Regions from separate parts of the Homo sapiens genome. Here all the other regions are linked to region 2. Evidence: fine-mapped expression QTL. A gene starts in region 2. Each other region holds a variant in brackets. All regions are shown on one strand. Distances are between the middles of the regions.

Region 1 (5,101 bases), 22 kb before region 2:
TTTTGAGATGGAGTCTCGCTCTGTCACCCAGTCTGGAGTGTAGTGGTGTGATCTTGGCTCACTGCAAGCTCTACCTCCTGGGTTCAAGCCATTCTCCTGCCTCAGCCTCCTGAGTAGCTGGGATTACAGGTGAGTGCCACCACACCCGGCTAATTTTTGTATGTTTAGTAGAGATGGGGTTTCACCATGTTGGTTAGGCTAGTCTCAAACTCCTGACCTTGTGATCCACCCACCTCAGCCTCCCAAAGTGTTGGGATTACAGGTGTGAGCCACTGCACCCAGCCCCAAATTAATTTTAGTATGTAGTATGAAGTAAGTGTGGAAGTTCATTTTTTTATATATATATGGACGTCCAGTTGATCCAACACTTTTTGTGGAAACACTTTCCTTTCCCCACCGAGTTGCTTCATCACTTTGGTCAAAAATCAGTTAATTTGGTCAGGCACTGTGGCTCACGCCTGTAATCCCAGCACTTTGGGAGGCCAAGGCAGGTGGATCACTTGAGGTCAGGAGTTCAAGACCAGCTTGGCCAACATGGTGAAACCCTGTCTCTACTAAAATTACAAAAATGAGCCAGGTATGGTGTGTGCCTGTAGTCCCAGCTACTCGGGAGGCTGAGGCAGGGGAATCACTTGAACCCAAGAGGTTGCAGTGAGCCGAGATTGCACCATTGGACTCCAGCCTCGGCAAGAGAGCAAGAGACTCTCTCAAAAACAAACAAACAAACAAATTCAGTTAACTACATATGTGTGGGTCCGTTTTGTAATATACTGTGTGAACCAAAGAAAAACCCATTCATGGGCTGCCTGGTCTGGGCCCCGACTATTTTCTAACATTGACCTCCAGCACTCAGACCTCCTTGCTGGCCCCTGGCTAGGCACCTGCTGCCTCAGGCCTCAGCTCCAGCTCTGTCCTGGTCTAGAACTGTCTGCCCTGAGATCATCTCCTGTCAATGCCTCCTCCTCTGAGAGGGAGGCCCCTGCCATGGTGTTGCTCTGGTGATTTGGTTCCAGGAGAGCTTGATGAGATCAGCAGGCGCCGGATTGTACAGGGACTTGCAGGCGGAGACAAGAATTGAGGTTTTATTCTGTGTGAGATGAGAACAGGAATGGCATGATCTGACTTTGGCTTTGGAAACGTGGCCTGGGCTGCTGTGTCGAGGTGGACTGTAGGGGGAGTGCGGAGGCAGGGGTGGCCGCAGGAGGCTCCGGAAGCACGTGGCTCCTGCCGGCCACTCGCTCTGCCTGTAGTCTGTCATCAGAGCAATCCTTGGCCCTGAGAGCAGATGCTGCAATGAGAAGGAAGGTCAGCCCTGGCCAGCCTTGCTCTGGGATCCCAGGGCATGGGATTCAGGAAAAATAGGGGCTTCCCTCCTCCATGTTCACCATGCCACCCCGCCCTCGGTTCCCACACCCTCGTGGGGTGGCTCCAGGCTACTGTCCTGGCCCTTGACCTATTCACTGCCCTCAAGGCTTGGGCTGCATTTGTGGAGCAGAAGAAGGAGCCGGGGTGGAAGCCCTGAGGTTAAGTTCCAGTTCCTCTTCTTACCAGCTGGGTGACCTCCAGCGAGTCACTGGAGCCTGCAGAATCTCATTTGAGAAGTTGGATAAGATCTCTGCCCCCACCGCCCAGGCCCCAGGGGAGCTGTGCAGACTGACTCTCTTCTGAAGAGTCCCTTGGAAATGTTTTGGCGGTGGCAAGAGAAAGAGCTTTGCTTGTTCTTCAGAAAGACTTGCCGGAGTCAGACACTGAGGACTCCAGAGCATCTGGAGGAAGCCCAAGGGCCACCTCCCCTGAGAAGCCTTCCTTCGCCAGCCTGAATAAAATGGACCTCTATACACACACCTGTCTCAGTGGTGGCAGTGGCAGGCCATCTGGAGCGGCTGCTGCTGTCACACCAGCTGCAGCAGGGAGGCACGGCTGGGGCTGCATGTTCCATGGAACTGGCAGGAGCTGGGGACAGGCAGGAGCCTCTCCCATTCTGAGTCGGGGTGGCAGCTCCCTGCATGCCGCTGCAGCTGCCCAAGCCACGGCTGTGGACCCAGGCATCCCTGTGCTCTCGGAGCCTGGGAGCAGGTGGGAACCCCACCCTCCCAGGTGCAGCTGCAGCCGCCCAAACCACAGCTGCAGACCGGGGCCTCCCGCTCCACGGAGCAGGCTGGAGTCCTGCCCCACATCCCACATAGCTGCACCGGCCCTAACTGCCACTGCGGACCCAGGCATCTCTGCACTCTTGGGGGCCCTGGAAGGCCCCCCTGCCCTCACAGGCTTGGAAATGCCTGCTCCCACTGCCTGGCTTCTCCTTGCTGTCGGCACCTGCTCTGATCTTGGGGCAAAATTGGGGCCGAGCCTGGGTTTTGTCACAGCCCAGCCAGGTGTGCACACACTCAGGGCAGTGCTGACATGCCAGCCCCCTGCCGTCTCAGCCCTCTCCAGATTTTGGGCACTGATGAGCATAGGAATGAAGCTGAGGAGGAACTGAGGGCAGCTTGGCAGTGGCCTGCAGACGCCCCTTGGTACCTATAGCCTGGGCGCCATGAATGGCAGCAGGAGGCAGACAGGTTTCTGGGCAGAAGGGGGTGAGTCCCTGGTGAGGCCCACCTTCAGGCCAGGGAGGCCCTGAAGGCTGGGGGCCAGGCTGTCAGTGCCGTGGACTGGAGTGCGAACTTGTGTTGCCTTTTCTGGGCCTGCCCATGGCCGCCCATGGACCAGTCAGCATGA[A/G]CTTCCCCCTCTCTGAGGCTGACAGAAGCCCCAGGCTCAGCCAGAGCTGAGCAGACGTCGGATGACCAGCTGTAGTGAGGAACTGCCCTCTCCAGGGCCTCCTCTGAGCTATTGTCACTCAATAAAGCTCCTCTTCGTCTTGCTCACCCTCTTGTTTCCGTACCTCATTCTTCCTGAGTGGAGGACAAGAACTTGGGACCCACTGAATAAGGCTAAAAGAGCTATAACACAAACAGTGCTGAGACATGCCCCTTGCTGGCCACGTTGCAGGGGAAGAGAAGGAAGGAAGAGCTGCAGCCCTTTGGGGAGCCCAGACCGGGGAGTCTCCCAAGCCAGGGCTGTGATGCCCTCTTTGGGTCCCTGTGGTTTCTGGCATCTCCAAGCTTCTGAGAGCCACTGTGTTCCCCAGTGCCAGCTGTGGAAGCTGCTTGCAGTGCGCCTGGTCCAGCTGTAGCCTCGCAGAGAGCTGGGGCCCATGCTGGCACCCGGAGCTGCCTGCCCCACTGCAGCAGCCGGCGTGTCTGACTGTGCAGTGGCCGGACCTCACGCGTGCTTACACACCCGTCACCACCCCACGCAGTCTCCCTTGGTAGACGTGGGATCCAGGCCGATAGTGTGAGCCGAGTGCAGTCTGCCAGGACAAGTGGGCGGAATGAGCCCAGTGGGCCCAAGCAAAACTCAGACAAAGATGCCACTGGCCACAGAGGTTTCTGCCCAGAAAAGCGACACCCCAAAGATTCCATAACATCGGCACCTGACCCCGCTTACATCTGTACACGCACCTGCCTCTGCACCTGGCTGCTCTGACGTCTGTACACACACCTGTCCCTTCCTTGTTTCTTCAATCATAGGGCAGCCTGCCAAGCCATGAACCACTGATATCTCAGGCTGTGGGGAGCACTTGGTGTCCCCAGAACCCAGCCATCAAGGGCCTACCCTGAGGAGGCAGGCAACGATGAAAGAGGGGAGAATGAATGAATGATGTCTCTGTGTGCTGAGTCTTAAGGAAAACGGACCATGAAAACCATTCCTGTATTGAAAGTGCTAGAGGCTTCCAGGCAGGACCGCAAGGAATGTGTGCACAGCCCCATGGGGAAGCACGGCCCCCATGACCCCCACTTTGCTGAGAAGGGACCTGAGACTCACAGAGGCTGAGCCGCTTCACCCAGCGAGGGGCTGGTGGAGCTGGGATTCTAGCCCCGAGTGTGGCTCTCCCCACTTCCTCGTGGCTCTCAGTATCCAGGAGGAATGAGGGGCCCCCTTCTCCTACTGATGAGGAAACTGAGGCCCAGGGTATGTGGGGACCTGCCTATCGCTGAGCATGCCAGGAGACAAGTCGGGCCTGCAGCCCACATCCTTGTTCTGAAGCCTCCCCCAACCCCTTTCTTTTTTTTTTTTTTTTTTGAGACAAAGTCTCACTCTGTCACCCAGGCTGGAGTGCCGTGGCGCGATCTTGGCTCACTGCAACCTCTGCCTCCTGGGTTCAAGCGATTCTCCTGCCTCAGCCTCCCAAGTGCTGGGATTACAGGTGCCTGCCACCACACCCGGCTAACTTTTGTATTTTTAGGAGAGACAGGGTTTCACTATGTTGGCCAGGCTGGTCTTGAACTCCTGACCTCAGGTGATCCGCCCACTTCGGCCTCCCAAAGTGCTGGAATTACAGGCGTGAGCCACCGCACCCAGCCCCAAGGCCCCTCTTCCTGTAGCCCTCACTTCCCCTGGTGTTCCCCCCACCTTTGCCCTTCCTGCCTCTATCCTAGACCTGGTGGTTCCCGTGCAGCTTCAGTCAGCACCTATAAGGGAGAACGAGCACATTCTTGCTGCTTCTTTTTGTTTTGTTTTGTTTTTTGAGACAGGGTCTCACTCTGTTGCCCAGGCTGGAGTGCAATGGCGTGATCACGGCTCACTGCAGCCTCAACCTCCCAGGCTTGAGCAATCCTCCCAGCTCAGCTTCCCGAGTAGCTGGAACCACAGGCACGTGCCACCATGCCTGGCTAATTTTTGTATTTTTTTTGTGGAGACGGGGGTCTTTCCATGTTGCCCAGGCTGGTCTTGAACTCCTGGGCTCAAGTGATTCACCTGCCTTGGCCTCCCAAAGTGCTGGGATTATAGGCGTAAGCCACCTTGCTCGGCTACATTCTTGCTTCTTAAAGAGACAGTGCTCTCTGTCGCTCCTGTCCTGTCCTTTCTGTCTATGGCCCACAGCAGCCAGGAAAGCCAGGTGTCCTAGAGGGAACTCTGGGCAGTGACCTCAGGGATCCCCATAGTTACTGTCCCCCCGATGCCCACCAGGGCAGCAGTTCTCCCACAGCTGGCCCTGTCCCCCTGGGGGCCATGCTGTTCTATCATTGTCTTCCCTCTTGCCAGCAGCGACTTGCAA
Region 2 (5,101 bases):
TTCCCATGCACAGTGTGATTTAGCATTTGTTGACATTAGAAAATTCTGTGTATATGTGAGGTCAGGAGTTCGAGACCAGCCTGACCAACATGGAGAAACCCCATCTCCATGAAATTAGCCGGGCGTGGTGGCACATGCCTGTAATCCCAGCTACTTGGGAGGCTGAGGCAAGAGAATTGCTTGAACCTGGGAGGTGGAGGTTGCGGTGAGGCGAGATCGCGACATTGTACTCCAGCCTGGGCAACAAGAGCAAAACTCCGCCTCAAAAAAAAAAAAAAAAAAAAAGAAAGAAAGAAAATTCTGTGTATAGGTAATACCTGGAGTATTATTGAAATACAAAGGAGAGAGCCCAAGCGATGTTTGTTTACTCATTCATTCAACAGATATTTTTCTGGCACCAGTCCTGGGCTGGGTGCCACGGGAAGTGGGATGAATTGGTTCAATGCTGGTCATATGACACAGAATACACGGAGGCAACTGTGTGCAGGAGGGTGGGGTGGGGAAAGGGGGTTTGTGAAGCAAATAAGAACACAATGCATTGGCCAAGCGTAACCAGGCAATGTGGGTCCCAAAGGCAACTACAGTTGCGGAGCAGAAAGGATTTCAGGCCAAGGGAACACTGTGGGCAAACGCATGGCAGTGGGAACAGGCAGGGGGTGCTGTGGGGTTTGGGGAGGCAAAGAGGGATGTGACTATTGGACTTGACAGCCTTGGAGCACTCGCTCATGCTGTCTGATCCACCATCCCCAGTTCTCACGTCCACCAGCCCAAACCCCAGCTCTCCAGACGCAGAACCAGAGGCCTCAGCCCTCATGCCAGTGTCCTCACTTTACAGACAGGGATGCAGGCCCACTGGAGAAGAGAAATACACGTGAGGCTGGTCGCGCACTTCCTTCATTCCCTCACTGCTCACCTTTCTACAGAGCCCTCCTGGGCCTGGCACTGGGGACACAGAGGGGTCAGATGTGGCTCTGCTCTGAAGAGTTCAGGGGCCAGTGGCACAAAACTGGGGCAGAGGCCTGAAGCAGGATCCAGATCCCATCTCCCTTCTGGGGCTCTGCCCAACCCCACGGCTCCTTCCTGCTGTGCCTCCCAGGAAGACCCCTGCGTCCCCATCAGACCTCTCCATCATTCTTCGTTTATGCAGCCTACATTTTTTTTTCTTTTCTTTTCTTTTTTTTTGGGGGGGGACAGGGTCTTGCTCTGTCTCCCAGCTTGGAGTGCAGTGGCGGGATCTCGGCTCACTGCAGCCTCCGCCTCCCAGGTTCAAGCAATTCTCCTGCCTCAGCCTCCAGAGTAGCTGGGATTACAAATGTGTGCTACCATGCCCGGCTAATTTTTGTATTTTTAGTAGAGATGGGGTTTCACCATTTTAGCCAGGCTGTTCTGGAACTCCTAACCTCAGGCAATCCACCTACCTCGGCCTCCCAAAGTGTTGGGATTACAGGCATGAGCCACTGTGCCCAGCCTGCAGCCCATATCTATTTATTGGGCATCTAATGTGTGCCAGGCAATGTTCTGGGTACTGAGACAACAGCTGTGTAGTAGACAGGCCCCTCCCTCGGTAGAGAAGAGAACAAGTGAACCCATAGGTATCCAATGTGTCGGGAGGAGGTAAGTGTCACCCTGTGAAGGAGAAACAGACTAAGGGAAGAGAGAGGGAGGGAAGGCGGTCAGGGGAGTTTCTTTGAGGATGTGACACTCGGGACACAAAGGAAGCAAGTTACACAGGAATGGGGAGAAGAGGACTCCAGACAGGGGAAAGGGGGACCTTGATGGGTCTGGGGTCCACACACAGGCTGTGAATGCAGGGAGTGATGTAGATTTAGCTTTGGAGAGACCTGGAAATCAATGCTGGTCTCTCCATCTCCCCCTGTTCTTGGAAATGGACCACCAGGCGTGAGGTTTGGGGAGGCCACTGGCTGCTTCTCCGGTGTCTTCCTGTATCAGCCACAACTAGCACACGGAGGGATGCTGGCCAGACCTGGCTTCATCAGGATGACACGCCCAGCTAACCTCATACCTCCCCCTTCATCAACACTCCCCCATGTTGGGGAGGCAAGGCAGGGAAAGGTCCCCCATGGTGCAGCTGAGGAAATGGAGGCGCAACACTCTGCACTGTGCCAGGTGCAGAGGAGGGGGGCCGGAAGGGCTTTGCCACGGTGTCCCCCAGGAGACCACCTTCTGGGAGCAGGTGACCTCTTGAGGGGTTCTGCGGAGGAAGTTCCCAGAAGTCAGCCGAGGGGACTTGGTGGAGGTGGCAACGCACAGGGCGGGTGACAAAGTACACATCCCGTGGGGTAGCAGCGGGGGAGGGGAGAGGTGCCCTGAAGGGGCGGCGGGAGGGGCTCAGAGGCGTGATCCCGTTGGTGGGGCGTTTAGGACCTTGGGTGGAGGCGGGACCCCGCGAGCGGTTTGAGGGAGGCTGTCCTGGGCATCCGAAGATTGGCGGAGACTGGCCGTTTGGAAGTGGGCGGGGCAAGGGAGGTCAGGGGGCGGGGCCAGGGAGCCGGGGTGGGTCCGGGCCGTTCAGAGGCGGGGCGGGAGGGGACAGGGGCGGGGCCGGGGCGGGGAAGGGGCGGGGCCGGACCGGGGCCGGGCCGGGCCGGGGCGGGGCGAGCGGAGCCGGGGGCGCGCGGGCGGCGGCGGCGCGGAGGTGCGCTCGCCGGTGCTGTGTTTGGCGGGTGGTGGCGGCGGCGGCGGCGACGGCGACGCGCACAGAGGCGGACTGTGGCTTCCTTGGTGCTCGCGGCGGGCTGCGGGCCGGGCCGCCCGCCCTCCCCGCCGCCGCCGCCCCCGAGCCTGCGGGCGGCGCCGAGGCCGAGGAGCGCTCGCTGCAGCACATGCTGCGTGCCATAGCGGAGGAGCGCGGCCGTCTTAGCCTGCGCCGCGAGGTCTGCGGCCTCGGTGAGTGGGACCCGGGGGCGAGGCCGGGCCGGGAGAGGTGAGCGTCTCCGGGGCCGCCTCTGCGCGTCCGTGTTTCTGTGCGCCCCGCGCATCTCTGTCTCTGCGCGGGTGTCGTGGTCTCTGGGTCTGCCTGGGTACCCTGTCTTCCTCCATGGCCCCCCCCCCACCGTCCCTGCATCTGGGTCTGTCTCTGCTTTCCGTCCGACGAGCGCCCCGCACCCCTGTGCCCGGGTCTCATTCGGCGTCTCCCCCTGTCAGTCCGTCCGGGTGTCTGTCTCATCTTCCTCCTTCTTCTTCGTGTCTCTGCGGGTCTTCTTCCTTCTCCAGGAAGCCCGCCCCGGGCCCTCAGCACCGCGGTAGGGAGTGTGGGCGTGGGATCTGGGTACACCCTTAGCCCAGCGCGGCAGGGTCGGGCCCTCGTTGGGCTCTGGGTGGACCTCGCTGCGAGCGTGCCCTGGCCACTGTCTCCTGCTACCCGAAGCCTTTGTCTTTCCGCACCCACCGGCCCCTCTCATCCCTTAGCTGTATCCAGGGACCTGTTGGGCAATGGCCCCCCGAACCCGCCCGCTTGGCTGAGGGGCAGGGCCTGCTGCCTCTCGGTGTGATTCTGGGCTTTAAGTCATGGATCTGCTGGGGGGCGTGGGATGGGGGTGCCTCGTATTGTTTGGAAGGGCCTGGGACTGCAGGTGTGGGTGGGGTCTCCCAGCCAGTGAGGTAATCCATTACTGATGGATCATGCCCAGACTGAAGCCCAGGAGAAGCCCCCTCTTTTGTCGTCTCAGGTTCGTCATTTTCTCCATGGAAAAGACCCCTCCCTCCTCCGTGCAGGGAATGACTTCATACCACATTGTCAGCCACCCCCCACCCCACCCCCAGGCTAGGCTGGGGATTTCTGAGGGGGTGACAGCATTGCTGAGTACGGAATGTCAGCCTTCCAGATTCACCCCTTCATTCACCGTTGGGGAAACTGAGTCCCAGAGAACAAGTGCATCCCCCTAAGGTCACACAGCTGCAGGGACATGGCAGTCCCAGGCATTCAGGGCCCCTCAGCAGGCCACACCCTGGAGGCTGGAGTGGAGAGAGGAAGTAAATTTGAATCCCTTTTGTAGGAGGCAGGCTTAGCATGGGAGGCTTCCCAGTGAGCAGGCCCCAGCCTAGCCTGCCCAGGCGAGCCTTTCCTCATGCAGGGGTGGGGTGGGGGGTGCTTATGAAGTGAAATGGACAAGAACTTCAATGGTTGACAAGGTTTCAATGGTTTCTTTCTGAAAAGGTGTCAAGATTTACTTTTGAGCAGAAGTTGGAGCGTGCTTATTCATTCATTCTGCAAACATTCATTGAGCACCTACTGTGTGCCACCGTGGCAGGCCCACCTGTCAGCTGGCACCGAATATCTGAGCTGGGATGCATCTGAAGGACCATCTGCTGCAGGTCACTTGGCCCTGTTTGCTCAGCAGCTTCAAGCAGTCCCTCCCCACTCCCCTGTCCACACACACCTATTGTCCTCTGACCACCTTTACCTGTGAGCACCTTCTCTCCTCTTCTAGGCAGCCCCTCCCGCAAGGAGGCTGCAGGGCCATTCCCAGAAGAACAGTGAACAGTGAAAATGGCACCTAGCATTTACTGAGCACTTACTATGTGCCGGGTGCTTTACTCATGCTGCAAATTTAATCCTGACACAATGCTGACTTTGCCAGGGAGCAGTATTATCTCCATATCAGCGATGAAGAGCCTGAGGGTGAGAGAGAGAGAGAGAGAGAGAGAGAGCCTGCCCAGGGACAACCAATGAGGAAGCAGCATAGCAGCATAGCCGGGACTGACCCTCTGCCAGCCTGACCTCAGAGCCTGCCCTCCACTCCCTGAATATCCCCAGCCAGGTCTTTATGTGCCTACGATACTCACGCTGTTTCCTTGTCTCTTCTCCAGGCCTCCCGCACGTGCCAGGTCTCCCCTCTTCCCCTGCTGCTGAACTCAGTCCCTGCAGGGCTCTGAAGCAGAGAAAACCTGCTGTTTTCTCTGCCCGGAAAGCCGCCCCTACTCATGTGCCCCACAAGCATCTCTAAGTTTTCCTTTAAGTCTCAGCTCCAGTGTTGCCTCTCCGGGAACTCTTTCCAGCTCCCAGGCACACAGTCCTGTTCTGCCTGTGTTCTCTTTGTGCCAGGCACATGTTTGTTGGGACAATCAGGATGATTGTGGC
Region 3 (5,101 bases), 37 kb before region 2:
AGGTTTGACATTTTTCAAAGTGAAAATGTTGGGGGACAGAGTCTGTTCTCTGCCACAGAAATGCACTGTTCCCCTCTTTGGGTGTCGGTTTACCTTCTAGAAAGTGGGGAGGGAGTTTGGTCACCTCTCAGCCCTGACATGCAGAGAGCGGATGATCAGATCCTTATCTTCAGCACACAGAAAATGTCCCAGAGGTAAGGAACTCTTGAACAGGGCTGCGGTTTTCTTCCAAGAATTTTTATAGACTGACATTTCTTGTTCAACAATTGTTTGTGAACCTGGTTGTGAACCTGCAGTTTATCAGAGGCCAGCAGGGTTGATTTTCTTTTTTTTGAGATGGAGTCTTGCTCTCTCACCCAGGCTGGAGTCCAGTGGGGCGATCTCGGCTCACTGCACGCTTCGCCTCCCAGGTTCAAGCCATTCTCCTGCCTCAGCCTCCCAAGTAGCTGGGACTATAGGTGTGCACCACCACATCTGGCTAATTTTTGTATTTTTAGTAGAGACAGGGTTTCACCATGTTGTCCAGGCTGGTCTTGAACTTCTAACCTCAAGATCCACCAGCCTCAGCCTCCCAAAGTGCAAGGATTACAGGTGTGAGCCACCGTGCCTGGCCTCAGCAGGGTTGATCTTAAAGGCCCAGCTCAGAATCACCTGTGAGAGGAAGTAGGCCCAGGAAATTGTTTTCTCCAAAACGCTGCAGTTTCTTTAAAAAAAAAACAAAAACCCCAAAAAGTCCTCTTGTCTCTTGCCTTGCCCAAATATGGGGAGAACATTTGAAGGAAAATGTTAAAACAATAATCTGCAAAGGCCCAAAACATGTTCTGGAAAGAAAAAAATCTTAGATTTATAAACAAATGTCCACTTCAAAGATTGCTGACTTTTGTTTGGCTCATTCTGAAGAGGGGGAAGTACAGGAGAAATGAGTCATGGTGGGAAATTCACTTGGGAGAGACCATTGCTTGTGTCAGTGGAGGGGAAACAGGAGAAAAAGGGGGCCTGACACCTGCCAGTGTCCCTTGCTGCTCCACGTGCACTTTCCTAAGTTTATTTGTTTTTTTCTTTTTTTTTTTTTTTTGAGACAAGATCTCTCTGCGTCACCCAGGCTGGAGTGCACTGGCATGATCCCTGGTCACTGCAGCCTCGACCTCGCTGAGCTCAAGCTATCCTCCCACCCCAGCCTTTCTAGTAGCTGGGATTACAGGCAGGGGCGACCACACCCAGCTAATTTTTGTATTTTTATAGAGGTGGGATTTCACCATGTTTCCCAGACTAGTCTAAAACTCCCAGGCTCAACTGATCCTCCTGCATCGGCCTCCAAAGTGCTAGGATTACAGGCATGAGCCACTGTGCCCAGCCCAAAGTTAAAAAAAAATTTTTTTTAATGTTTCCTTTTTGATCAGGCCACTTCTAGAGCACTCAGATTCAGTCTGACTTGAGGTCATTTATACATCTAGATCCATCAGACCGTCCTTCTGAACCCTGGCCTGGAGGATGTGTTTGTCTGAGGCCAGAGAGGCAGGAAGTTTTGCGATGTGAAAGGTTAAGCAAAGCCCAGCCCTTCACAGACCTCCTTTGAATCTGAAGCATGGGGAATTTATGGGCTGGAAATTCTTGACCCAGAAATGTCTCTCCAAACACTGAAGAGCCCGGGTCCAGTCGGTTTCCATGACTCCTCTCTTCAGAAGTCAGAGAAGTTGCAGGAATCCCACCACAGCAAGTGCTGGCTTTCATTGTGGGGGCTCTGTCCCAGGACTCTGGAAGTCAAGCTTTTCAGTGCTTTCAGATTCAGCTACTTTATTTATTTATTTAGAGATGGAGCCTTGCTCTGTTGCCCAGGCTGAAGTACAGTGGGGCAATCTCAACTCACTGCAACCTCCGTCTTTCGGGTTCAAGCGATTCTTCTGCCTCAGCCCCCCATGTAGCTGGGATTACAGGTGCGTGCCACCACACCCAGCTGATTTTTGTATTTTTTTTAGTAGAGATGGGGTTTCACCATGTTGGCCAGACTGGTCTTGAACTCCTGACCTCAGGTGATCCACCTGCCTCAGCCTCCCAAAGTGCTGGGATTACAGGTGTGAGCCATTGTGCCCGACCAGAGATTCAGTCACTTTAAAACGAGAAACAAAAACCCCAGTGGAGAAACCCAAGTCCCTGCCTGGTGCTCACTCGTCTATCCTCACTCTGTGATGAGGACGCCCACTTTGCTCTAAGGGGCCCCCACCTGTCTCCCAAGCTCCAGACCCACATTTCCAGCTGCCCGTCCTGCAGAACATGCCCTCCTTGGTGACTCCAAGGGGCCGCGCATGACAGGACTCTCTGAAGAGCCGTGTTCAGCC[C/T]TGGCTGTGATTCTCATTGTGGTGGTCCTTACCCTTGGTTTCTTTTTCAGGAAGATGGGGATGCTCAAGGGGTCCTCTTGCAGAGGGGTGGGATGAAGTGCAGTCGTGGGTGTGAATGTGCCCTGTGACTGCGGTGGTGGGCAGTGGCAGGGTCCCCCACATTCCCCAGGTGTCACCACAGCCCTGGGCTCTGTTGGACTAGTCCTGTCTCCTCTGGGCCATCTCTTTCCTTTCAGGCCCCTCTCACGTAGAATCCAAACTTACTCAACAGGTGTTTGTTGAGTGCCTACTGCGTGCTGGGCACACGGATCTTCCCAGTGACTCTGGAACCCACCTCTTCCATTCTGATGCTGCCACCGCTGCCTGGCACGGTGCATTAGTGTTCCAGGGTTGATATAATGAGTAAGGCAGACCGGGTGGCTTACACAGAAATTCACGTTCTCACAGTTCCAGAGACTGGAAGTCCAAGATCAAGGTGCTGGCTAATCAAGATCAAGGGTTCTTCCTGAGCCCACTCTTCCTGGCTTGCAGATGGCAGTCTTCTCCCTGTGTCCTCACATGGGCTTTCCTCTGTGTGTGTGTGTCCTAATCTCCGTTTTTTGTTTGTTTATTTGTTTTTTTAAGAGACAAGGTCTCTTTCTGTTGCCCAGGCTGGAGTCCAGTGGCACGATCATAGCTCACTGCAGCCTCCCGCTCCTGGGCTCAAGCGATCCTCCTGTCTCAGCCTCCCAGATAGCTTGGATCACAGGCATGTGCCACCACACGTGGCTTATTTTTTTTTAATTTATTTTTGAGACAGAGTCTCACTCTGTCACCAGGCTGGAGTGCACTGAAACCTCTGCCTCCCGGGTTCAAGCAATTCTCTGCCTCAGCCTCCCGAGTACCTGGGATTACAGGTGCCTGCCACCATGCCCAGCTAATTTTTGTATTTTTTTTTTTTTTAGTAGAGACAGGGTTTCACCACTTGGCCAGGCTGGTCTTGAACTCCTGACCTCATGGTCCACCCGCCCTGACCTCCCAAAGTGCTGTGATTACAGGTGTGAGCCACTGCGCCTGCCGCCACCTGGCTTATTTTTAAATTTTTGTAGAGACAAGAGCTCACTTTGTTGCCCAGGCTGGTCTTGAACTTCTGACCTCAAGCAATCCTCCCACCTCAGCCTCCCAAAGTGCTGGGATTACAGGTGTGAGCTACCACGCCCAGCCCACTAACCTCCTCTTGTTATTTATTTATTTATTTATTTTGTTTGCTTGTTTGAGATGGAGTCTGGCTCAGTCGTCCAGGCTAGAGTGCAATGGTGCGATCTCGGCTTACTCCAAACCTCTGCCTCCTGGGTTCAAGTAATTATCCTGCCTCAGCCTCCTGAGTAGCTGGGATTATAGGTGTGTGCCACCATGCCCGGCTAATTTTTTTTTATTTTTAGTAGAGACGGGGTTTCTCCATGTTGGCCAGGCTGGTCTCAAACTCCTGACCTCAGGTGATCCGCCCGCCTCAGCCTCTCAAACTGCTGGGATTACAGGTGTGAGCCACCGCGCCCAGCCTTAACCTCCTCTTGTTATAAGAATACCAGTCATATTGGATTAGGCCCACCCTAATGACCTCATGTTAGCTTAATTACCCTTTTAAAGACCTGTCTCCAAATACAGGCACTTACTGAGGTACTAAAGCTTAGGACTTTGACAGATGAGTTCTGGGGGGTGTGGTTGAGCCCTCACACATGTAATTGGCCCCCTCCACACTTTCATGCCTGGACTAATAACATAATAACAATTGACCCCACGTGTCAGGGACTGTGCTAGGGGTTTTACACATTTCAACTTATCTGTCACATCTGGTCTGGCAGGCAGGTACTGTTATTACCTCCATTACCTTCAGATGAAGTGAGGCTCAAGGCAGTTGAATAACTGCCCGCTAAAACGCGAGCTCTAACCGCGGCACCCGCACAGTGCCTGACCCTGCCGAGATGGACAGGTAGACAGACCCAGCGTCCTCCAGGTAAGACACAGGGAGTAGGGAGGTGGGTTTTAAACCCAGGCCATGGGACCCTGGTGTCCACACCCTGTCTTCTACGGAGACTGGCCTCCTACTGGGTCTCCCTGTTCATGCATCACTCCTCTGATGCGTCCCCACCCAGAAGCCAGGGTAACATTTCTTTTTTAAAAAAGTTTCTCTGGGTCGGGCGCCGTGACTCACGCCTGTAATCCCAACATTTTGAGAGGGCGAGAAGGGCGGATCACCTGAGGTCAGAACTTCAAGACCAGCTTGACCAACATGGTGAAACCCCATCTCTACTAAAAATACAAAAAAAATTAGACGGGCATGGTGGCAGGCGCCTGTAATCCCAGCTACTTGGGAGGCTGAGGCAGGAGAATCACTTGAACTCGGGAGGTGGGGAGGTTGCAGTGAGCTGGGATCACATTGCTGCCCTCCAGCCTGGGCAACAGAGTGAGACTCTGTCTCAATAAAAAAAATAAAAAATAAATAAAATAAAAAGTTTTTCTGGCTATAAGTTTATTCAATGCAAAATAATCCTCTCCAGTTTTACTGACATGGCTGACCATGTCCACGATCAAATCTGCCTCTAAACTTGGTTGCTGACCCAGCCCCAGCCTCGGCTTTCTGGTCTGCACCAGGAGGCACAGTGCCCCATCTGTTGGTCTCTGTCAGCTTCCCCTCTTGTGAGTCTTGTAGGTCGACTGCCCTCCAGACCTAGCCGAGGCCTGCCAGTCTCTGGAGGGCTGCAGTGTGGGGTGGCAGGCACAGTCTC
Region 4 (5,101 bases), 28 kb after region 2:
TAGGAGTGAGAAAATGCTCTTTAGCTTCTCACATGTTTTGTTCTCTAGCATATCGGAGAGTTCCAGTTCAATGCACCCTTGCCAGCATTAGCTACAACTTAACAATTTTATTGGCATATGGTTTATGTAAAATAAACTGCATATATGTAGACTAAACAGTTTGATAAGTTTTTATGTTTTTTAAATTAATTAATTTTTTGAGACAGGGTCTCGCTCTGTCTCCCAGGCCGGAGTGCAGTGGCACAATCTCGACTCACTGCAGCCTCTGCCTCCCGGGTTCAAGTGATTCTAGTGCCTCAGCCTCCCGAGTAGCTGGGACTACAGGTGAGCACCACCACACCCACCTAAGTTTTGTATTTTTAATAGACATGGGGTTTCACCATGTTGCTCAGGCTGGTCTTGAACTCCTGACCTCCAGTGATCTGCCGGCCACAGCCTCCTAAAGTGCTGGAATTACAGGTGTGAGCCACTGCACCTGGCCTAAATTTTATTTTTTAATACCCTTTTAGAGACAGGGTCTCACTTTGTCCCCCAGGCAGGAGTGCAGTGGTTCGATCATAGCTGACTGCAGCCTCGAACTCCTGGGCTCAAGTGATCCTCCCACCTCAGCCTCCCTGGTAGCTGGGACCATAGCCACATGCCATCATGCCCAGCTAATTTTTATTTTTTTTTTAGAGACCAGGTCTCACTGTGTTGCCCAGGCTGACCTTGAACTCCTGGCCTAAAGCAGTCTTTCCGCCTTGGCCTCCCAAAGTGCTGGGATTACAGGTATGAGCTACCTCACCCGGCTAAGTTTGATGAGTTTTGATGGTTATACGCACCTGTGAAACCAGCGTCACAATCAAGATCTAGAACCTTTCAGGGCAACCACCCTCCTGCTTTAAGTCACTACGATTCCGCCTTTTCCGAAACATCGTGTGAATGTGATCATACAGTAAATAGCTTTTTGCGCCTGACTTCTTTTGCTCTGCAGGACAAGTTTGAGGTTTATCCACAGTGTAGTGTGGATCACTAGTTTGTTTTTATTGTGACATGTGTGCATTCTCCTGGTTTCCAGTTTGTGGCCGTTACGAATAAAGATGCTGTGAACATTTGTGTACCAGTCTCTGTGGACATGTGCTTCATTTCTCTTGGGCAGGTACCTAGGAGTGGCTAGTGGCTGGTTTTGTAAGTATATGTATAACTCTGTGAGAATCTGGCAGTTTTCTTAAGGGCTGTTTTGTTTGTTTGTTTGTTTGTTGAGACAGAGTCTCGTTCTGTTGCCCAGGCTGGAGTGCAGTGGCACGATCTTGGTTCACTGCAACCTCTGCCTCCCGGGCTCAAGTGATTCTCCTGCCTTAGCCTCTAGAGTAGCTGGGACTACAGGCGCCTGCCACCATGCCTGGCTTATTTATTTATTTATTTCCGAGATGGAGTCTTGCTCTGTCACCCAGGCTGGAGTGCAATGGTGCGATCTCGGCTCACTGCAACCTCTTGCCTCCCAGGTTCAAGTGATCTTCCCACCTCAGCCTCTCGAGTAGCTGGGATTACAGGCACCCGCCACCATGCCTGGCTAATTTTTGTGTTTTTACTAGATACAGGGTTTCACCATATTGGCCAGGCTGGTCTTGAACTCCTGACCTCAGGTGATCCACCCACCCCAGCCTCCCAAAGTACTGGGATGACAGGCATGAGCCACCACACCCAGCCAAGGGCTGGTTTTTAAAGACCAAATTTATTCTGTTATTCCGTTGGGCTCTAAGAGGGAACCAAAAGTGAAGCAATGTAAAGAGGAAGTAAAAAAGAATTGAAGTTTATCCAGGAATAATCACAGCGCTTTGCTTAATTTTGCAAGGGTCTGTAGTAGCGTGACTTGGGCTTTGCCTGTTGCAAAAACGCGGCAGGAATTTCAAAGCGACTCTGCAGACAGCACGCGTGTTTCGTTCCCCCGGGTCCTGTGAGCCTGGGAGGTCTTGCCAGTCCC[G/A]TGGGCTCTCCTGGCCCTCACCCCTGGAGGCTGACAAGGCTCGCTGACCCAGACCCTCACCGATGAAGCCTCCTTCTCTTTTCCTCCCTCTCACTGCCCTAGAGCCCAGGAGCCAGGCAGGGCATGGGAGTGGGTGAGCAACACACTGTTGGGCAGAGGGCTGAGGGCAGAGGGCAGAGGGCTGAGGGCTGAGGGCCGAGGGCTGGGGCTGGCTGTGAGTCCTGGTTCTTTGGTTAGTGTTGTGGCTGACGTCAACCAAGGCTGGGGTGTTCTGCATTTGACTCAGCTAGTGGCCGAGTCCTGGTCAGCCCACTGGCCTGCCTGTGAGCGCGAGAGAGGGTTCTGGCACCACTGGCCCTCACGTTCCCCATCTCTAAGTGTCGGGATTAGTGCCTTCCAGCCCGAGTACCAGCACTAGATTGCACTGGTCAGTGAGGAAGACAGAAAACAAAAGCAGACCCGGTTTAATCTACTGAGTTGATAAGAGAGAGCTTGGCTGCATATTTTGAAGTGTTGAATCTGTCTAGAGAGGGGACAGACCCACCTATGTTGATCCTGCTGTGTGCCCGTGGTCTCGGTTTGTCTGCATGTGCCCCGAGGAACCTGTGGCTCAGAGCCCCCGCCCATTGTCCCATCACCAGCGGCAGCGCTGGAATGGAAACCCAGATCTTCCCTACCAAAGCCTGTGGGCTTTTTCTCTTTTGCAGGAAAATATTACAAATATTTATCATAAAGAAATACCATTTGTAATAGAAGGAGAAGTCCCTGTGAGGATCAGATGAGCACGAAGCTGCGCAGACGTGGGGCAGGGGTGGGGCGGGTGCTGTCTCCCTGCGGTTCCCGCTTGCAGCCTTGGCTGGCTGGAGGGCGGCTGTCCCTTTAAGTCGGGTTCCCGCTGGGACTGCCGCAGCCAGGGGGAGTGGGTGGGGGTGAGAGATGTTGGTGAGAGCCCTGCCTCTCCAAAGGCTCCCCCCCAGCCAAGCCTTCCCGGCTTCCAGCCCAGACACCAGCCAGCCAGTGGCGTTCCTGGCTCCTCGGGATTTTCCTTTTCCTCCGAAGCTGCTGATTCATCCCCAGGCTGGAGTCAGGCTCAGCTGTGGGGCTGGGAGCATGGGCTCTCAGGCTGCTGCTGAGTGGAGGAACTGGGCCTCCTGGGAGGTGTCCTCCAGCCTCTCTGGATGCTCCATGGGTGGGGGTCGGGAGTGGTGAGGGAAGGGTGGCGCATCTCAGAGCCCTCGCAAATTTCTGGCCAGAAATGTGGGGGTATGGGCGCAGCTTGGCCAAGGCCATGCTGCAAGGGCCAGGGTGGCCGTCCTTCCTCACTCCTGTCTGGCCTCCCTCTGCAGGGTGCTTCAAGGATGACCGCATCGTCTTCTGGACTTGGATGTTCTCCACCTACTTCATGGAGAAATGGGCTCCCCGGCAGGACGACATGCTTTTCTATGTGCGCCGGAAGCTGGCGTACTCCGGCAGCGAAAGCGGTGCAGACGGGAGGAAGGTGAGTGACCCCCGGCCCCTGCCCCTGCGTCTGTGCCCCAAGCATCCCTGTGGTGTCTGCTCTCGGTGTACATGTGGGCTTTCCTACAGTGCTCATGCATATCAAAGAGGGTGAGTGATATTTATTGAGCACCTACTGTATTCCAGGAACTGTGTAGACAGTCTCATGTGCAAATCTGGATGTGCTGGGTGTCTGTACACATTGTCATTCATCTTCACTGTGACCCTGAAGGGCAGTGATTGCCGTCACCGTCGTAGCTTTGAGGAAACAGATCAGAGACAGCTAACTCGGCTGGCCTCTTATAATTAGTCAGTAGATGGTAGAGCAAAGGTCGGACTCCAGAGCCCAGGGCCCTCCCTTGGCCATGGCAGGGTGACCTGACTCAGTGGTGGTGATGATGACGGTGCCTTCCACTTACTGAGCCCTCGCCATCATCTAGACACAGTGCTGAGCTCTCTTCTTCTTAGCCTCCTTGTGAAGTCCCAACAACTCGACAGGGTGGGTGTTCTTACCCCTTTTACAGATGAGGAAACGGAGGGCTCGGAGATGAAGTGATTCGCCTAACGTATTTCATCCACTAAATCGCAGTGTGGGAGGAGCTAATAAAATACATTTTGCATGCTTCCTTCTCTGTTTTTCACAAGCTTTTGCTGTTCGTAAAATGTTTAATCAACTCCATATGCCAGACATGGAAACGCTTTTGTTTTCCTTCAAAAACAAGAAATGAGAGGGCCGTGTAGCTAGGTCTGGAACTTGCAGCCTGCCTGGCTCTGTAACTCCGGGGCCATGGTTTGCTGGCAGAGGCTCATGCAGGGATTACTTGGAGCCTGGTCTTGCCTTGGGCCCATTTTCTGAGCCTGAACACACGCGGGATGGATTTTCTGCAAGTGGAAGGGCCTGGGTGCCTGCATGCTGGCCCCGAGCCCTGAGCTAGCCCCACTTTGGAGGGACCAGCAGGAGACCATGAACAACTGGCCAGAGAGGTGGGGGAAGAGCCAGGAGAGGGGAGGGCACCCCAAGAGGGGAGGTCTGGAGACGTGGGTGCAGCCAGTGGGGTGCAGTGTCTGAAGGGCCCATTGGATTCGGTACCAGGGAGGGGTGGCGGCCTTGGCGCAGCAGTTTCAGTGGCGGGTGTGCAGGGACTAGAGCCACACTCGGGCAGGCAGGGTGTGCAGGGACTAGAGCCACACTCGGGCAGGCAGGGAATGCTTTCTGGGAGGGATGAAGAGGAGGCCTGACTGGTGATGGGATCCCCGAGTAAGAACCTTCTGGAGCTGGCTCAGGGCTCCTCAGAACCTGCTGCCACGCCCGCCCTGTCTGGGTGTACAATCGAGAGACCAGCTTTCAAGGCCAGTCTTGTTTTTCCCTGGTTTACCATATGACACTGCCAGGTCATCTCCTCTCTGGGGTAAAAGGGGATCAGGGCAGGTGCCCCGAAAGGTGAGGGCCCTCCCATTCTGGACACCTGGGAGGCTGGGATGTTTGGGGTTAGTGTGACCATATGAGTGCCCTTGGCAGGGGGGTGGATGGTGCCTCAGGATCCTCACTGCCCGTGACCCTCATGGCGGGCACAGGCTCCTCTCACCTCTGCACAGTTCTGGGGGAGGGACTCCTCTCACCCATGGGAACCGGAACTCGGA
Region 5 (5,099 bases), 49 kb after region 2:
ACAGCGCCTACCATGTGCAGCTGCCTGTCCGACCCCATCTTACAGACGAGAAAACCAGCACACAGGCACCAAGGAACTGTCCGGAACTAACAGCAGGGGCCGGCGATGGGAGTCAAACCCAGGCACGCGGCCTGGCCTGCATGCTGAGCCACATGGTGCTGTCCGGACAGATGGACAGACACTCGGTGGAGTCTGCCTTTCTCAGGCCCTAAATCCCTCTCCAAAGGGTACTTGCGATGCCGGATTTAAAACTTGCTCAGAGCCACTTAGCCACTTGAGAACCAGACAGTAAGGTGTTACTCCCAGGTTTGTTTTTCCAAAGTAACAGATGACATGTGGAATAAAGTAATAGAGTAACAAGTGGCAGGGCCAGAACCAGGGTCCCCAAAGTCCTGGTGTTGGCACATTTGTACTTCTTGTAAGACCATCTTTAATTTTTCTGGGAACACACCTGCCTTTTGTGTAATGCGGGGAAGACTAATGCATGGTGACACCTAGTTTTCCTCAACAGGACACTTGATCCCAAAACCCCTTTAAGACCTTAGGTTTCCTCAGCGGAAAACTGTACTTTAATCCCAAACCCCCTTTAAGACATATTGGGGCTGGGCGCAGTGGCTCACGCCTGTAATCCCAGCACTTTGGGAGGCTGAGATGGGTGGATCACCTGAGATCAGGAGTTCAAGACCAGCCTGACTAACATGCTGAAACCCCATGTCTACTAAAGATAGAAAAATTAGCTGGACATGGTGGCAGGCACCTGTAATCCCAGCTACTCGGAAGGCTGAGGAAGGAGAATCACTTGAACCTAGTAGGCAGAGGTTGCAGTGAGCCGAGATCACGCCATTGCATTCTAGCCTGGGCAACGAGAGCGAAACTCTGTCTCAAAAAAAAAAAAAAAAAAAAAAAAAAAAAAAAAAAAAAAGATACATTGGTCTTTAAACCCAAACCCCCTTTAAGGCATGTTGGTCTCAAGGGGATTTGGGATTGAAGCACAGCTTTCTGTTGAGGAAACCTAGGTGTCACTTTTTAGAACATTAAAAAGAAAGTTGTAGGGTGGGCTTTTCCATTTAAAGGAATGTGATGATCCTAGGTTCTGATGAGTGATAGGTGGTCTCCGTTTATACCCTTTCTTCTTTTGGCACCTGTAAGTTCCGGTAGTGGCCATCTTACATTCTCATGTCCTGCTGGAAGTGCCTAGTTGCCTGCAAAGCCAGCTAAGGCTTATTATTTCAAAAGAAGATTATTTAAAACATGAGTGACAGGTAGTCAGAAGAGAACAAAAGGACGCAAGATACTCTATAGCCAAGTCAGCTTGGAGGCAGGATGGGTTGCTGAGTGAAGTCGCCGCTCACTTTTGGATTCTTATGGACTGTGAGTTAGTCTTCCCTCTACACGGAGTCACAGGAAGGGTATAAATGCATGTTCCTGAGGTGCCCTCCCCCAAAGAATGTACCTGCACTCAAACCAGGATCTGTTTTTGCTGTTTTAATCATAAATAGACTAGTTAGTAGAAGACTTTTGAAGAACAAAGTAAAACTTTTTTTTTTCATTAAAAGATGTCCCAGAGGAAAGGCCCTGTGCAGCCAGTATATTCTAATGACTGCCTGGACCATGTCCTAATATGGTGGTTTTAAGTTGTTGGCCAAAATCCTTTAAAGACATACGAAACATCTGCCAACTTTTTAGCGAACTTAACAGGTTTCACTGACGTTTTCCTCAATTTTTGAATTTAGGTGGGATTTGCTTTCATGTCCTGTTTCAAAAACCAAGTGTCTCTTGACAGCCCACTGGTTCTTCCTGTCCTCTTGCTCTAGTCTGTATCAGAAAGCAGAATGACTGTACTTTTGTTTTACAAACAACCACCTGATAGGACGGACACTCCACGAGATAAGGAAAGGCACGTGCCCTTGAGCTTGAATGGAAGCAGCCTCTGGAGGGGGCAGCCACTGCCCTTCGAGGGAGAGCAGCTCTTCAGCAGTGGCCAGAGTGCCACGTGACTCTGCAGATGACCCCTGGGAGCCGGGTGATGGGCACCTGCTGGGGCTTTTGTTTTTTCTTTTTCACTGGCTGGCTTGATCCTCAGTGGCAAAAGGACCCCTGAGCCCCTTCTCCGAGCCCTGGAGCACTCCTCGGGACACCGAGTGGCCTCAGGGCTGGGTTCAGAGCTCCTCCCGCAGGGGGAGCCTCAGAAGTGGAGGCAGCTGCTGATGGGTGAGTTTACAACTTCTTATCCTGCCTAAGGCGAGTAGGCGTTTTTATTCCGTTTCCAGTCCTTGAGCTCAGCAGATCAAAATAACAGTGACCCTGCAACCCCACAGAGCCCGCGACACGCTCGCTTTCTTCCCCGCCCTGCCCCTTTAGTCCCCGCTCTGGAAGGCCAGGCAGTTTAGGTGTAAATAGGTATCTTTTATGGTTTCCAAATGAATTATTTGTGTGAGAGTAATTAAATCTGTAAGAAAACCTGTTGAGATTCTTCACTATGAATTATGACTTCTACAACATGTATTTTAGCAAAAACACGATGCTGGCCTCCACTGGATAGCTCAGTATGCTGATTGCCAGTGATAGTTCTGTACGCGTTACCAACAGCGTCTTTATTAACCCTCT[T/C]CCACATCCAGTGGAAATCATTGCTAGGCGGTATTTGTTGGTTGGCTGTTAGCTTTGCTTTATGATTTCATGTTTCTTTTAAAGGTTGTTTTGCATGTTGAATATTAAATTTTTTTTTTCTGTGTCTTCCTCTAATCTTTTTCTGTAATGGGAATTTCAGGGTAAATACAGATATTATAGCAAAGCAATAATTTAATGATTGAAACTTAATTTGCCCCCAGTGATTCCTGAAACTTTTTTTGGAGCTTTCACACAAACTACTTTTTTGAACTAGAGTGTGTTGGAGGCAGAGAAAAATCACCCTGTGTGCTGGCTTTGCCTGCCGTGAGCCAGTGAGGAGTCCGAGAAGAGGTGGGCAGGTCAGTGATGGGTTTGGCCAGAGATGCCATATTTGCAGTATTAAATCATTTCAAGATGCATTTCAAGGCCTGGCACGGCTCACGCCTGTAATCCCAGTGCTTTGGGAGGCCGAGGCGGGCAGATCACTTGAGGTCAGGAGTTCGAGACCAGCCTGGCCAACATATGGTGAAACCCCCATCTCTACTAAAAATACAAAAATTAACCGGGCGTGGTGATGTGCACCTGTAGTCTCAGCTACTTGGGAGGCTGAGGCAGGAGAATCGCTTCAACCCAGGAGGCAGAGGTTGCAGTGAGCCAAGCTCATACTACTGCGCTCCAGCCTGGGTGACAGAGACTCCATCTCAAAAAAAAAAAAAAAAAAAAAAAAAAATGCATTTCAAGTTAAGCTTTTAGCCTCCACAAAGTAGTGCACACCCTTTCAGTTGTACTATAAAATTTCCCAGGCTTTTTCAGAGAACCTCTTAACCCTCACAGAAATGGAAAAAATGGAATAGAGGCCAGGAGCCCCAAGTTCAGGTTTTGCAGGCTCCAGGTAAGCTGGCTGATCTAACGGAAGATGAGGTGTTTGCAGCAGGCGTCTGTCTTGCAGCTCAGCAGGTGAGGGGACCTCGAGCAGGCTCTCGCATTTTCCGGCTGATCCTTCCGAGTCTGCTACTGCAGGGCCCTCGTAGGTGGGAGCAGCCTCATCGTCGCCTTTCACACTGTGAGCTTTTCCTTTCCACGGTCAGATGGACTTAGTGAGTTACCAGCGATGGATGTTAAGACCTAAGACACCGCAGAAAGTTACAGAGTGGAAAATGAGGGGCAGAGAAAAGAGGGTCTGAGAGGAACGCAAGCATTCCGGAATACAGTAAGGGACATCCCATCAATGACACTTCTTGGGAACAGCCACTGCCTTAGAAACACCAGACCAAGAGAATTTTCTGACCACAACCCCAAAGGCAGCCCATGAAGATGGAGGTTAGGAAGGAGGCGGTCTAGCAGGTGAAGACTTCCTTGCCATCCAGGTCAACCCCCTTCTTGTTGAACAGTGGGAAGTCCTTTTAAAGCAGTCACCTGAAAAATGTTTAATAGAAATTTGGGGAGAGTCTCTATCTTGGAAGCTGCCTGCGGGAACCTCATTCCTATTCATTGCCTCCTCTTGGAAGGCTAATCTGCTATTTCGGTTCCTTTAGCCTTAGATGAGCTTTTAGGAAGTACTGTCATGCCCTAGCTTAGAAGGAAAAAAGGTAACTGGAAAGGAAAACCTTTGGGAATCTTACACTGGGAGGAGAGGGGAATGTAACTCAATCCATATAATAACACAGTTCATTGTAAATAGACATGTTGACTGTGGTAACATGCTGTACTTTGTGCCTGATTGTTAAAATGCTAAGAACAGCTGGAAAATTTACATGAGGAAGAGAAAATACTTGTTTCTGGGGATAAAGAAAGGATCATGTTGTCTTTTCTTTCCTTACAGTGTCACTGAATTGCCCCTGACTTAGCCTCTCCATCAGCCAACAGGTTAGAGAGTTCTTTCCTCTGTGTGGACTGGGGTCTTTCCTCTTGGAATCTGATTTTAATGAAACAATTAGGTTGCTCATTTTGAAATAACCATGGCTTTTAGCCAAATTTTATGCTACTCTGAATAAACAATTTTGCTTAAAAGATTTTAGCCACTTCCAGAAGCCAGTGCAGTTGAGTAATTTAGTGGGCACGTATATCTCACTTAACGTGGCACGCTGGGGAGAGGTGTGTGGGGCTGGGACCTCAAGCTGCACCACCTCAGACACACTTAACCCTGGGCCTGGGTTTTCTCAAGTAGAATCACCACTTTCCTTCCTGGGACGCGACGATGTTGAAGTGAGACAAGGTTACGTCCAAAGGCTGGCATAGTTGCTGGCAACGCTGATCACTACTGCCATTTCTTCCCGGCGTGTGCAAGGGGTATTTCACGGGCCATCTTTGGAGTCATCGGGAGTGCATGTGCCAGCGGTTCCCAAATGTGAGCATGCCTCAGGATCACCTAATGCACGCTCTAACCCAACGTTCAAACCCAGAAGACCGGTGAGGAAAATACTTTGGATCAGTGATGACGGCTGCACCACTGTGAGTATACTAAAAGCCACTGAATCATGTACTTTAAAGGG

What was found.
Region 1: its variant is fine-mapped to the expression of KIAA0930 in whole blood (TOPMed, PIP 0.91).
Region 3: its variant is fine-mapped to the expression of KIAA0930 in whole blood (INTERVAL, PIP above 0.99).
Region 4: its variant is fine-mapped to the expression of KIAA0930 in whole blood (TOPMed, PIP above 0.99). The same link has a PIP of 0.9 or more in blood mononuclear cells.
Region 5: its variant is fine-mapped to the expression of KIAA0930 in monocytes (Fairfax 2014, PIP 0.95). The same link has a PIP of 0.9 or more in B cells.

The regions. Positions count from the first base shown.
Region 1 is chr22:45,260,038-45,265,138 of GRCh38, reverse strand. No RefSeq gene overlaps it. Among named protein-coding and RNA genes, the nearest start is that of KIAA0930, 22 kb to the right of the region's middle. RefSeq lists enhancers at 1,280-1,469, 894-1,729, 1,740-1,789. The variant A/G (reference allele first, on the strand shown) is at 2,722.
Region 2 is chr22:45,238,446-45,243,546 of GRCh38, reverse strand. It overlaps KIAA0930, which reads left to right and starts at 2,653. Exons shown (of 10, transcript NM_001009880.2): 1 at 2,653-2,907. The coding sequence starts at 2,844. RefSeq lists silencers at 2,330-2,529, 2,560-2,619, 2,780-2,839, 2,990-3,079.
Region 3 is chr22:45,275,860-45,280,960 of GRCh38, reverse strand. It overlaps the pseudogene RPS10P31. Among named protein-coding and RNA genes, the nearest start is that of UPK3A, 6.5 kb to the left of the region's middle. The variant C/T (reference allele first, on the strand shown) is at 2,337.
Region 4 is chr22:45,210,316-45,215,416 of GRCh38, reverse strand. KIAA0930 reads left to right here. Exons shown (of 10, transcript NM_001009880.2): 2 at 3,310-3,461. Among named protein-coding and RNA genes, the nearest start is that of MIR1249, 12 kb to the right of the region's middle. RefSeq lists enhancers at 2,696-3,245, 3,246-3,795, 3,927-4,427. The variant G/A (reference allele first, on the strand shown) is at 1,964.
Region 5 is chr22:45,189,876-45,194,974 of GRCh38, reverse strand. It overlaps KIAA0930, which reads left to right. Exons shown (of 10, transcript NM_001009880.2): 10 at 1-2,731. It overlaps LOC105373064 (a long non-coding RNA gene), which reads left to right and starts at 3,363. Exons shown (of 4, transcript NR_146602.1): 1 at 3,363-3,951; 2 at 4,430-4,473; 3 at 4,775-5,058. RefSeq lists an enhancer at 3,606-4,106. The variant T/C (reference allele first, on the strand shown) is at 2,608.